Homo sapiens: one gene and its partners. The protein of the gene in region 2 purifies or fractionates together with the protein of the main gene of each other region. This does not show direct contact. Each region holds a gene or a part of one and is shown on either strand. Other genes may lie near its edges. The genes, in order: LYPLAL1, FABP3 and OLFM4.

Evidence for each region.
Region 1: the proteins of FABP3 (region 2) and LYPLAL1 fractionate together in Homo sapiens (co-fractionation; one large-scale study listed by BioGRID). This does not show direct contact.
Region 3: the proteins of FABP3 (region 2) and OLFM4 purify together in Homo sapiens (co-immunoprecipitation; one large-scale study listed by IntAct). This does not show direct contact.

The regions. Positions count from the first base shown.
Region 1 is NC_000001.11:219,190,862-219,194,522, reverse strand, and holds part of LYPLAL1 (lysophospholipase-like protein 1), read right to left. Parts: intron 1,442-3,661; coding exon 1,272-1,441; intron 1-1,271.
Region 2 is NC_000001.11:31,367,309-31,370,131, reverse strand, and holds part of FABP3 (fatty acid-binding protein, heart), read left to right. Parts: intron 1-541; coding exon of another isoform or gene 542-574; coding exon 575-747; intron 748-2,637; coding exon 2,638-2,739; intron 2,740-2,823. UniProt on the Homo sapiens protein: FABPs are thought to play a role in the intracellular transport of long-chain fatty acids and their acyl-CoA esters.
Region 3 is NC_000013.11:53,045,673-53,049,205, forward strand, and holds part of OLFM4 (olfactomedin-4 precursor), read left to right. Parts: intron 1-3,533. UniProt on the Homo sapiens protein: May promote proliferation of pancreatic cancer cells by favoring the transition from the S to G2/M phase. In myeloid leukemic cell lines, inhibits cell growth and induces cell differentiation and apoptosis.

The DNA of each region.
Region 1 (3,661 bases), about 190 Mb from region 2:
GGCCCTTTCAGGTTGTAAGAAATATGTAAGGCAGATAGATCTTGCTTTACTTATCTGCACATCCCCGTGAACATCTATAATAATGCGTAGCACATAGTGGGGACTTAAAAAATACTTGCTAAAGATTGAATGATGACTGAATGATACATGATTCACATGTTTGGAATTCTATCTTCTAACTACTTCATAATCCCCTAGACTAAGTTGGGAATCCCTTCCCTACACTCTTCCTAGTCCTCCCATAATGCTCCATGTTTATCTCTATTAGAGTTAAACATCAACGTTAAACATGGAAACACAGAAATATAGAGTTAAACATAATGAGGAAACTAAGGACCAGAAAGGTGATGTTGTTATGCTAGAGGCCACGCTGCTTTCAACAAAGTGGAAACTAACGCCAAGACAGAATAGAATGGATTTTATCCATTATATCATGTTGTCTCTCATGACTCAACAGACAGTTCAGCACTTCAATAAACACAAAGAAAGTTTATTAGTTTACCCAAATCCCATCTATAAAGAATTTCAATGTGCATTTTAATGTTATTTAGAACATAATGGGGATACTTAATTTGCTTTTTAATTTCATCATTAAATACAACTCATTGTAAGTTAAATAGTTACATTTGGAAATAAAACCCTTTCACCAAAATATGTCGTGTACCATTCATATTCTACATGCCCCATCTCACTTTTGCATGTATTAGAAAAAGATTTTAATAATTTATGTATATGCTAAGTCCAGAAACAGAAAAAGGTATTAAGCAGAATAAAGAGCTTATATAAAGCTACTTATATTCCCTTAGGAACAGGGCTTGCTAAAGACAGTCTAACAAAAATTTACAAATATTCTTGTGAGATTAACTCTGAAGATTATAATTTTCATAAATGTAGTGGTATATTTTGACTGTATATCTTAATGGCAATAGATGTTTAAACTTATATTCATAAGAGTTAAGGTAACTGAAGTAAAATGTTTTAAAAATTGAAATGAATAATTTCTTAACTGAAAATTAAACTAGAAGAAAAATTTTAACTGCCACAAGAGTCTCAAAATCCGTTATTATTCAAAAAGAAAATCAATTAAAGTTTCATGCGCTGCTGTTTATAATTCTAATATCTTTGAAATCCTCAATATGTAAAGTTTATCTGAAACTATGAATGCATCGAATGATATACAAGTGCTTCTAAATAATGTTCCAAGTAAGATTTGATGTATAGAATTAGACAAAAGTGAACAGTGATAAATTACCAACATTTAAAGGTCTTACCTATTAATATCCTGTTCTTCTTGATGCCACTTTTTACTTCTTCATCAATCAAATCAGTAAGCACTTGACACATGACATCAATTGATTCAAGGTGTTCTGGGCAGTCATTGGTTATTTTAAATCTGTCAAACCATACATTGGAGATTCCTCCTTTCATAGGAGTATATGATCTGTTTAACAACCGCCCCCCCCCAAAAAAAAAGAAAGGAAAAGGGAATATGAAAATGGATGCTTTAATTACCAAAATAATAGTGTTTTGAATAAATGATTTCAATTTCTTCTAAGTTTTATAAGTTAAATGCATATTAAAACTACTCTCATGTATATTGTATTAACTATCCCATACTTGTATCTAATCCATTAAAATCTACTAATGCCAGTTCATATCCTCTTTACCTACTCCCTCCATCTTTTAAGAGGGAGAACAGTTACAGTACCAGTGAATCTTAATCCATTCATTGTATATTCATGCTCTGGGATACTATGTTGGTTAAAAAAAATACACACACATACGTGCACAGGCACACACACCATCAAGATATTCCAAACTGTAATGGAGTAAAGGGGGTCCTGTATTCAAGTATTATGTTGGTAGATGTAAATGAAAGGGGAACAAAAAAAAACCTTAGAGATTTCTGTGGGCAAACACAGAGAGGGATGGGGGCTATATTAGATAAACACAGAGAACAAATGTTTTCCAAATATGAAAAACGGAAGAGTTGCACAGAAGATAATCCTTATCCCTTGGCATGCCCTGCTTTCTCCTCACGTAATGATGAGAAACAGAGTGGCAAAGAAAACATAGCCAGTGACAAAAGTGCCTATAGTAATTTGAAAGAACTCTAAACCAATGACAAGTAATATTTCCCTTTGATGAACCCAGACACAGGATTCTTTCCACACCAATACCTCCTCTACTTTGCCATCTCAAATTTAGCTGTATACTGTCACCCACCAAAGTTAGTAAAGTAAAAGCATGAAATGTGCAGCTAAATTGAAAAACAAAAATAGACGGCTAAAAGACAACAGGTGAGACCTGAACATGCTTTTGTACTTCTTCTCTAGTGAAAAACCCAAGTAGAACCTCAGCATATTCAAGGAGCTAGAAATATTCAATTGTCATTGGCCTTGGGATGCATACAATCTTTAGGACCAGTGGGTGGTGCTGGAAGGGAACAAAATTACACCATTTTTCAATATTGATCATACCACCCCAAAATAAATGGACATCCACTTAAGGGGCTTGAACGTCAAGGTTATATTTGGAAAGTTTCTCAGAGAAACTAAAAAAAAAACCTGGAAACAAGAAAGTTGAACTGACTAAAATTTAACAAAAATTCATATACGGGGATCTTTTATTTACTCAAATAGAATCATATAAACATTACTTTGTAACACATTTTCTAAAATTTAAATGGATATGATGAATACCTCTGAAAGTCAGTACATAAAAACTTAAATGTTTTCCCTAAGTTTATGCAGATACATAAAATTTTTTAAATATGAGATTATATATATATACATTGTTTAGATGTTTTTCATGTCAATCTTATTCATTTTTTACCCATCTCTACATTCCTCCTCTTCTCTCCAACTCCCTCACACATCTTGTCCTTTACATTCGGTAAACTGTGTAAATGATCTGAAATATATCCTTCAATGTTATTCTTATAAATTAAAATATGCATATTTACAGGCTATTTCTTGGCACACTATTTCTTTTCAAAAATAAAGTAGTCTATCTGATTCTATTATGTGCATCATGCTTTTTTCCTTCAACAATATCTCATGGAAATCCTTTCATCAGTTACAGTTCTAACTTACCCTTTTAATGGCTATATTATATCCTATGATAAGCATATTCTGCAATTTAATCAGCCATTCCCCTAATAATGGGAATTAATTTGGTACCCAGCTTTTAGCCACTAAGAAATATGCTTCATTAAACATATGCATACGTGTTTTTATCTACTGGAACTTTTATTCCTATGGAAAAGAGTCAAGAAACAGGTTGGATTAAAAGGTACAATTTTTGTCTTAATAGATGTCTCAAAGTTGCTTCCATAAAAGTTGTAAAAATTTACCTTTCTACAGGAAAGGTAGGAAAATATCCTTTTGCCCACAGCAGTAATAGCAGTAGGTGCTGACATACATTAAAATGTTACCATTTAAGAGTATCAATTGAAGTTTTAAAACCAACTTTATTGAGGTATAATTTACATATATAAACTATATTGAACTACACACATTTTAGGTGTATAGTTCAATTACTTTTTACAATGCAACCACCATCTCCACAATGATACAGAACATTCCTTTTCCTTGGAAAATTCCATCATGCCCCTTCACGAGCAACTCCCGTAACCTTCCCAAGCAACTACTGAGTGAGA
Region 2 (2,823 bases):
ACTTAATAGTAGCTTTTTTTTTTTTTTTGAGGTGGAATCTCACTCTGTTGGCTAGGCTGGAGTGCAGTGGCACAATCTCGACTCACTGCAACCTCCACCTCCTAGGTTCAAGCAATTCTCAGCCTCAGCCTCCTGAGTAGCTGGGATTACAGGCACATACCACCACATCTGGCTAATTTTTTGTATTTTTAGTAGAGACGGGTTTCACCATATTGGCCAGGCTGGTCTTAAACTCCTGGCCTCATGTGATCCGCCTGCCTTGGCCTCCCAAAGTGTGATTACAGGCGTGAGCCACCACACTTGGCCCAATAGTAGCTTATTCTAATCCCAGCTCTGCCACTGACTTGCTATGGCACTGCTGTTCCTTAAGTATCTCTCATCTAATGGGATCAGTTATCTGTGTTCACCAAACAGAACTAAGCGCAAGACTGAATTTTAAAATTCCCATGCAAAGGCTTTGAAAGATACAGTCCTCCACTTCCCCATACCCAGGCCTGAGAGTTATTCATTGAGTTTCTTGTACACTGCTTCTCTACCCCAGCTCATATACTCATAACCTTCCCCCTACCCTCAGGTGTGGGTTTTGCTACCAGGCAGGTGGCCAGCATGACCAAGCCTACCACAATCATCGAAAAGAATGGGGACATTCTCACCCTAAAAACACACAGCACCTTCAAGAACACAGAGATCAGCTTTAAGTTGGGGGTGGAGTTCGATGAGACAACAGCAGATGACAGGAAGGTCAAGGTAAGTCAGGGAAACAGGGGTGGGGAATGGAGAGTGCTGAGACTCTAAAAGAGAATAGGCTGGTAGTCTTGGCTCCCTGGTATTGCACCCTGAGGGGCAGACTATCATGGGGAATTTAAATGAAACAAGATTCATAAAGCCTGTGTAGTGCTGGAATGCCACTGATGCTAAATACATGTCAGTTCTGTCCTCTTGTTTTCTTCCCTCCCTTCTTGGGATTCATCTATTGTCTGCCTCGGAATGGGCAGCACAGAGCCAGGATGTTCTTCTGACCTCAGTATCTACTCCAGCTCCAGCTGGGTGACCCTGTGCAAGGTATGCAGTAGCTCTAGGTTTCTTTCCCCTTCCATAGATGGCAGAGTTATGTGGCCATGGCTGTGACCTGAAGTGCTTTAGGAATGATGCCCAGAAGTCAGGGCCCTCCACTGAGTGAGGTCATTGTGACCTCCAGCAGCAAAAAAGGCAGCCAGGAACTAGAAGCACCTACTCAGATGCCGCTTCAACTTCTAACTCCCAGACATGGCCAATGACCCTGACAAACTATTTCCAGTGTTGCCAGCTGACAGGCAGGAAGAGCTATGTTCCGTGATAGGGCATTCACCTTGTCATGAATGTGTTTGCAGTGTCTTCCCACCAAGCCTTAGCCCCTCCTCCCAGGGTTCTATCACCCTGCAGTGGCTGTCTTGGCAGCTTGCCTCAGCCTTCCAGGCCAGGCATGGGAGCGAGAGAACTTAAGGGCTTTGACCTCTATAGGGTGTCCCTATAGCAGTGTTCTATCATGACACTATCATTCAGCCCCATCAGCTGTTTCCTCTTCCTCATAGCTGTCCCCAGAAAGAACAGGATCACACAGGTGGCTGGCAGCAGAGCTGGGGATGGTGCCCAAAGATGGCAGTCTACCTTGGATAAAGGTGGCTGCCCCACCACCTGCTCATACCTCCTTGGACTTGCCTACTTTCTCAAGGGGCAAGAACCCCAATTAAACACAATAGCCCTGTGGAATGCCTAGGGCAAAAATATCTACTCTGAGTAGGCAAAAAAAACTAGGGGAATGAGAACAAGGAGTAAGGTAAGGATAAAAAAGAGCACACTAAGAGACAGGCCTCATACCCCTTATCACCTAAACAATACACAGAACCTTCTCAGATTCTCCTACTGAACCACCTTGCTCATCAGGATCCCTTAGCCTGGCCTTGTGGCCCCCAAACTCCTAGGAAAGAGAGCTGGAAGAGCTGCCAAATGAGAACCAGCTGATGTATGTATGCTGGCAGCACCCAGAGCTGAGGAACCACTTCAAGGGCATCCAGTCACAGGACTTTGTGGTTGCTGCCCTCTTGTTGGCTAAAGAGGTCACATGATGTGGACCAAGAAAAGGTGTAGGAATACAGGGCAGGAAGTCTAATTATCCAATACTTCCTATCACTAAGGGTCTTTTAGACATTATGTGGACTAACCACAAGGCTGGATAAAGATTCTCAGGACTACTCCTCCTCCTCAGTCAGTCTTTCCCAGGGATAGACTAGTAAATCCCACCTGTATCTGAGGGGACCAGGCTACGGGAATCACCTAGAGTACAGATAAGTGTCTGTCTTGAAGGCTTGTGGTACTTCTCAGAGCCAGGCTCTCTGGCTCCACCATACTGCCTGCCTCTCCCTCCTTGCCTAATATCTGAAGGCCTCTTCCCCAGAAAGGCAGTAGTGGAGCAGAGGCTGGAGGTGAACTAGATGTCTTGCAGGGATAGCTGGGAGGCGGATTGCCTGAGCTCTTGTCCTCACACCATCACTAGTTTGGGTCAAAGGCTGTGTGCTCTGTGGCCCAGTGTCCAGACCCCACCCTGCCCCTCAATTCCTGACTAAGATCACAGCTCAGGCCTCTACCCTCTTTCCACAGTCCATTGTGACACTGGATGGAGGGAAACTTGTTCACCTGCAGAAATGGGACGGGCAAGAGACCACACTTGTGCGGGAGCTAATTGATGGAAAACTCATCCTGGTAAGATGGGCAACTTTGGAGCTATATCTGATTGGTTATTACTACTGCTCTTTCAGCCAAGCCTGTTCTAAAAAGCCAAGTCCT
Region 3 (3,533 bases), on a different chromosome or scaffold from region 2:
CTGGGCCCCCTCCCTTATAGCTACAGTTTGCTGACCCAGTGGTCAGCTTGAACTTAGAACAAGTGAATGTATCCCAGGTTCAATAAAATATGCTTCCTATTTGGTTTTTGCTACAAACAACGTCCTTTTTCTGCCTCATTTCATAGAACTTTCTAATCTAAAATAATTGGCCTTCTACTCATTAACTTTTTTCCCTTAAAACTTCAGTCTGTCTCTGTTTTGCCTGTGAATCTAAATGACTGTATATAGGCCAAATGTGATCGGGTGCTCAGGGGTTGATCTCCAGTTTGCTTGGGGATGCAAGGTTCTGTGCTGGTCCATAGTGATGCTCAGTAAGTAGCTGATGATTAAATGGGGTCTGAAAGAAATGGGGTGACCTGCTAAAATCTCAAGCTTAGGGAAGAGCCACATGTTGAACAGCATATATCCAACACTTCAGAGTCAATTTAGTCTTAATCATTTTATGACTATGATTGTTTTAATTGCCTAATTCTTATAAGTCAATCATATTCTCCTCCTGGCTCAAACAAAGTTCAGTTGCCCAGTTGAGAGAGTGCATTAATAGATCCAAGACTAATTTTCCTCTGTAGGCATATAATTATTGGCTTCAAAAAAATGCTACTAACCATGATACTTTTAAAAAGCCAAGTCAGAATATTTTAAATTCTCATGATTATGGCTTCCTCAGGTATTTTCAGAGTACCATGGTGCCATCTAATGAATTGCATGATGAAGAGAGTGCCAACCAAGGCTAAACTTCTATAGAGGGTTCCTCAAATTATGTTCCATGGAGTAAATGCCAGGCTTTTTGAAAAACCAGATATGTAGCAGGGTAGAAGGCTAGTGTTTTATAAATAAGGGTAAGCTGAGTTTAGGTGACTTGATTAATCTTTCATTCCTTTATTCCACAAACATAATTTGGTGCCACTGTGTGGCTGGCCCTGTTCTGGGTACTGGGGTTACCAGCATGAGTAAAGAAACCTCCAGAAGCCACTATCTAGGAAATGAGACATCTAAACCTCCAGTTGTAACATGATGTGATTATATTGAGATATTTACCATTTACTGAGTAACATTTACATGTCTTCTCTGTATTTTTCGTAACTATTTTGCAGAGTTGGTATTATTTTTCTTCTGACATGAGGAAACTGAGGCTCAGAAGGTTAAGTAACTTGCTCAAGGATACACAACTACTGTTGGAATCAGGCTTTGAATTAGAATCTGTCTAGTAGTATTTTCCATACTAGGCTGCCTTCCATAGCTGCTCTAACAGAGAGGTGCACCTGTGATTTCTGGAGTGAAAAGAAAATTCCAACAACTCACCTATCTGCTTAACACCAAATTATTTTTGCTTCCTTGGTAGTGGAGTAGGTAAAAGGGTACTGTTGCTCCTGACAGTTCTGTGCTGTGTGTTCTCTTCCACCAGAAAATGCAAAATGATTCAATGGTCTTTCAGAATTCTTGGATCATGATTGGGCAATGGGCTGTTGCCCAAGTGTCAGGGTGAAATTGGGATGGAAACTGGGTATGAAGTATGGAATGAAGTATGTCTAAGACCTTGACATGAAGGAAGGGGCTGGCAAGGAGCATGAGATAAGGGAGGGTGGTGAGAAGCTCAGTGAAGATGGGATGGGGGGATGGGGACTCTGAGGAACAGTGGGCACTGGACTGGCTGTCAGTTTCAGTATCGTGTCCAAGATGGTTTGCTGCCAGGAGTCGAGGAAGCCCGCCATAGCATTTTTCCTGGTCTGACATTGTTGTGGCCACATTTGTAGCATTGGCAGCAATGTTGAGTTCTCATCCCCATTTCCACTTCCTTTCTACCACAGCCGGGGCCCTAAAAATAGCCCTTTATCCTTACCCATAGAGGATAAAAGGAGGATAACAAATGAACAGGAAAGTGTTTAGGAATGTTTGGGAGGTGAGAAAAACAAAGTTTCATACATTTTAATATTTACACTGGGCAATTTGAATTTTCTGGTCAACTTATGAAATGATGAGCCACTATTACTATTAGTAGTAGTAACAATAGTAATAGTACTAATACTATTATACTAATAATAATGCAATTAGTTTTATGATAATAGCAGTAGTAATAGTAATTTTTTGAGAAGTTTATTTTGGTTCCTTCATGTCTAAAAATTTCCACATCTGGGGACAGAATAGTTTAACCTCTTGGTAGTGCTTGAATAAGTTATATGCATCATCAATTTTCCTTAAATATTTTGTTGCTGTCGGTTTGGGATATTTTCTTTTCAGGAAGGCAAGACTCAATGAAGCAAACAATTATTGTCTTCCAACCTGAAAGAAAAAAAAGTGACTTTCCTCAGAGTGAAATGTAGTTAAATAAATAAGTTCTCAGGAAGATACTTTAGCTAGAAAATCCAGTTTGTAGCATATGGAAACTTGAACAGTTTTTGTTATCATTAAACTGAACACACCGCTAACTTTATTTTAATAATTCATGCATTGTTTCATAAACAAAAGCAAACAAGCATTCATCTGAGAGATCACTTTTAGTAGAAGAAATAATAATTTATAATTTTATTTATTATTTCTTCAGTGGAGAATAGTCTCTTGGCTGAAAACACGTTGCTTTTTTATTTATGAAATGGCACATGCATTATTAAAATAAACCTGTGACTGTGTTCTGCTTAATGATATGCAAAATTATTTGAGGTTGGATACAGAGTGGTTTCATTTCTCTACCTGTTGTATGGTTGGCTGGCTTTCTCACCAACTGTGGATTTATGAGAGCATTTAAGGAGCATATATTTAATTCTGGGACCAAAAAGCCCCAGCCGATTGGAAAAATAAAAACAGAATTTCTAGTAATGGTTTCACCTTTGAGCAGTCCTTGGGTGAGGAGGATGGGGAGGGAAAGCATTTAGCAAGGAAAGGAATGGGTCTTTCCATATTGGACACAGCAGAGACCCAGAGACAAAGGCTTTGCTCCCCCTTCCCCGCCTCCATGCTAATCTCAGGCAATTCTTTGGAGCTCTGCTTTTGGCTCCAGCTCACCTCATGTTCCTCAATGGCTCTCTGAGTCCCTGCAAGTATTTCAGGCCAAATCCAACAATTCAGGTTCTGCTCCTTTCCTGTCTCACCTGCTCTGCTCTGAGCAGCAGGACGAGGGAAAATGACCTCAAATATACTTGAAGTTGGGTTTTCTTTGTTATCCAATAAACCATCTCATGAGTTTTTTTGAGTGTTAAGATCCCAGAAAATGTGTGTTCAACTCTTTGGATAGTTATTATAAAAATACTGGAGGAACTTTATTTTATTTTTATAGCTCATAAACTCCTGGGATGGCAGGCATTTCAGCGGGAGTACAATGTGAAGGGTTGATCGCCCAGACTGAGTTATTTACCCAAGTGTTACAGGGAATGTAGATTCAGTGGACCAGTGAATCTTGTCCCACTTGATTGTACACATTGTGACAATGACAGTGTCTGGATGGAAAGATGAAATACTTGCATGTCATTCTATGGCACAATAGCATATGGGTTATGAACAGCAGGACTCACCATGTA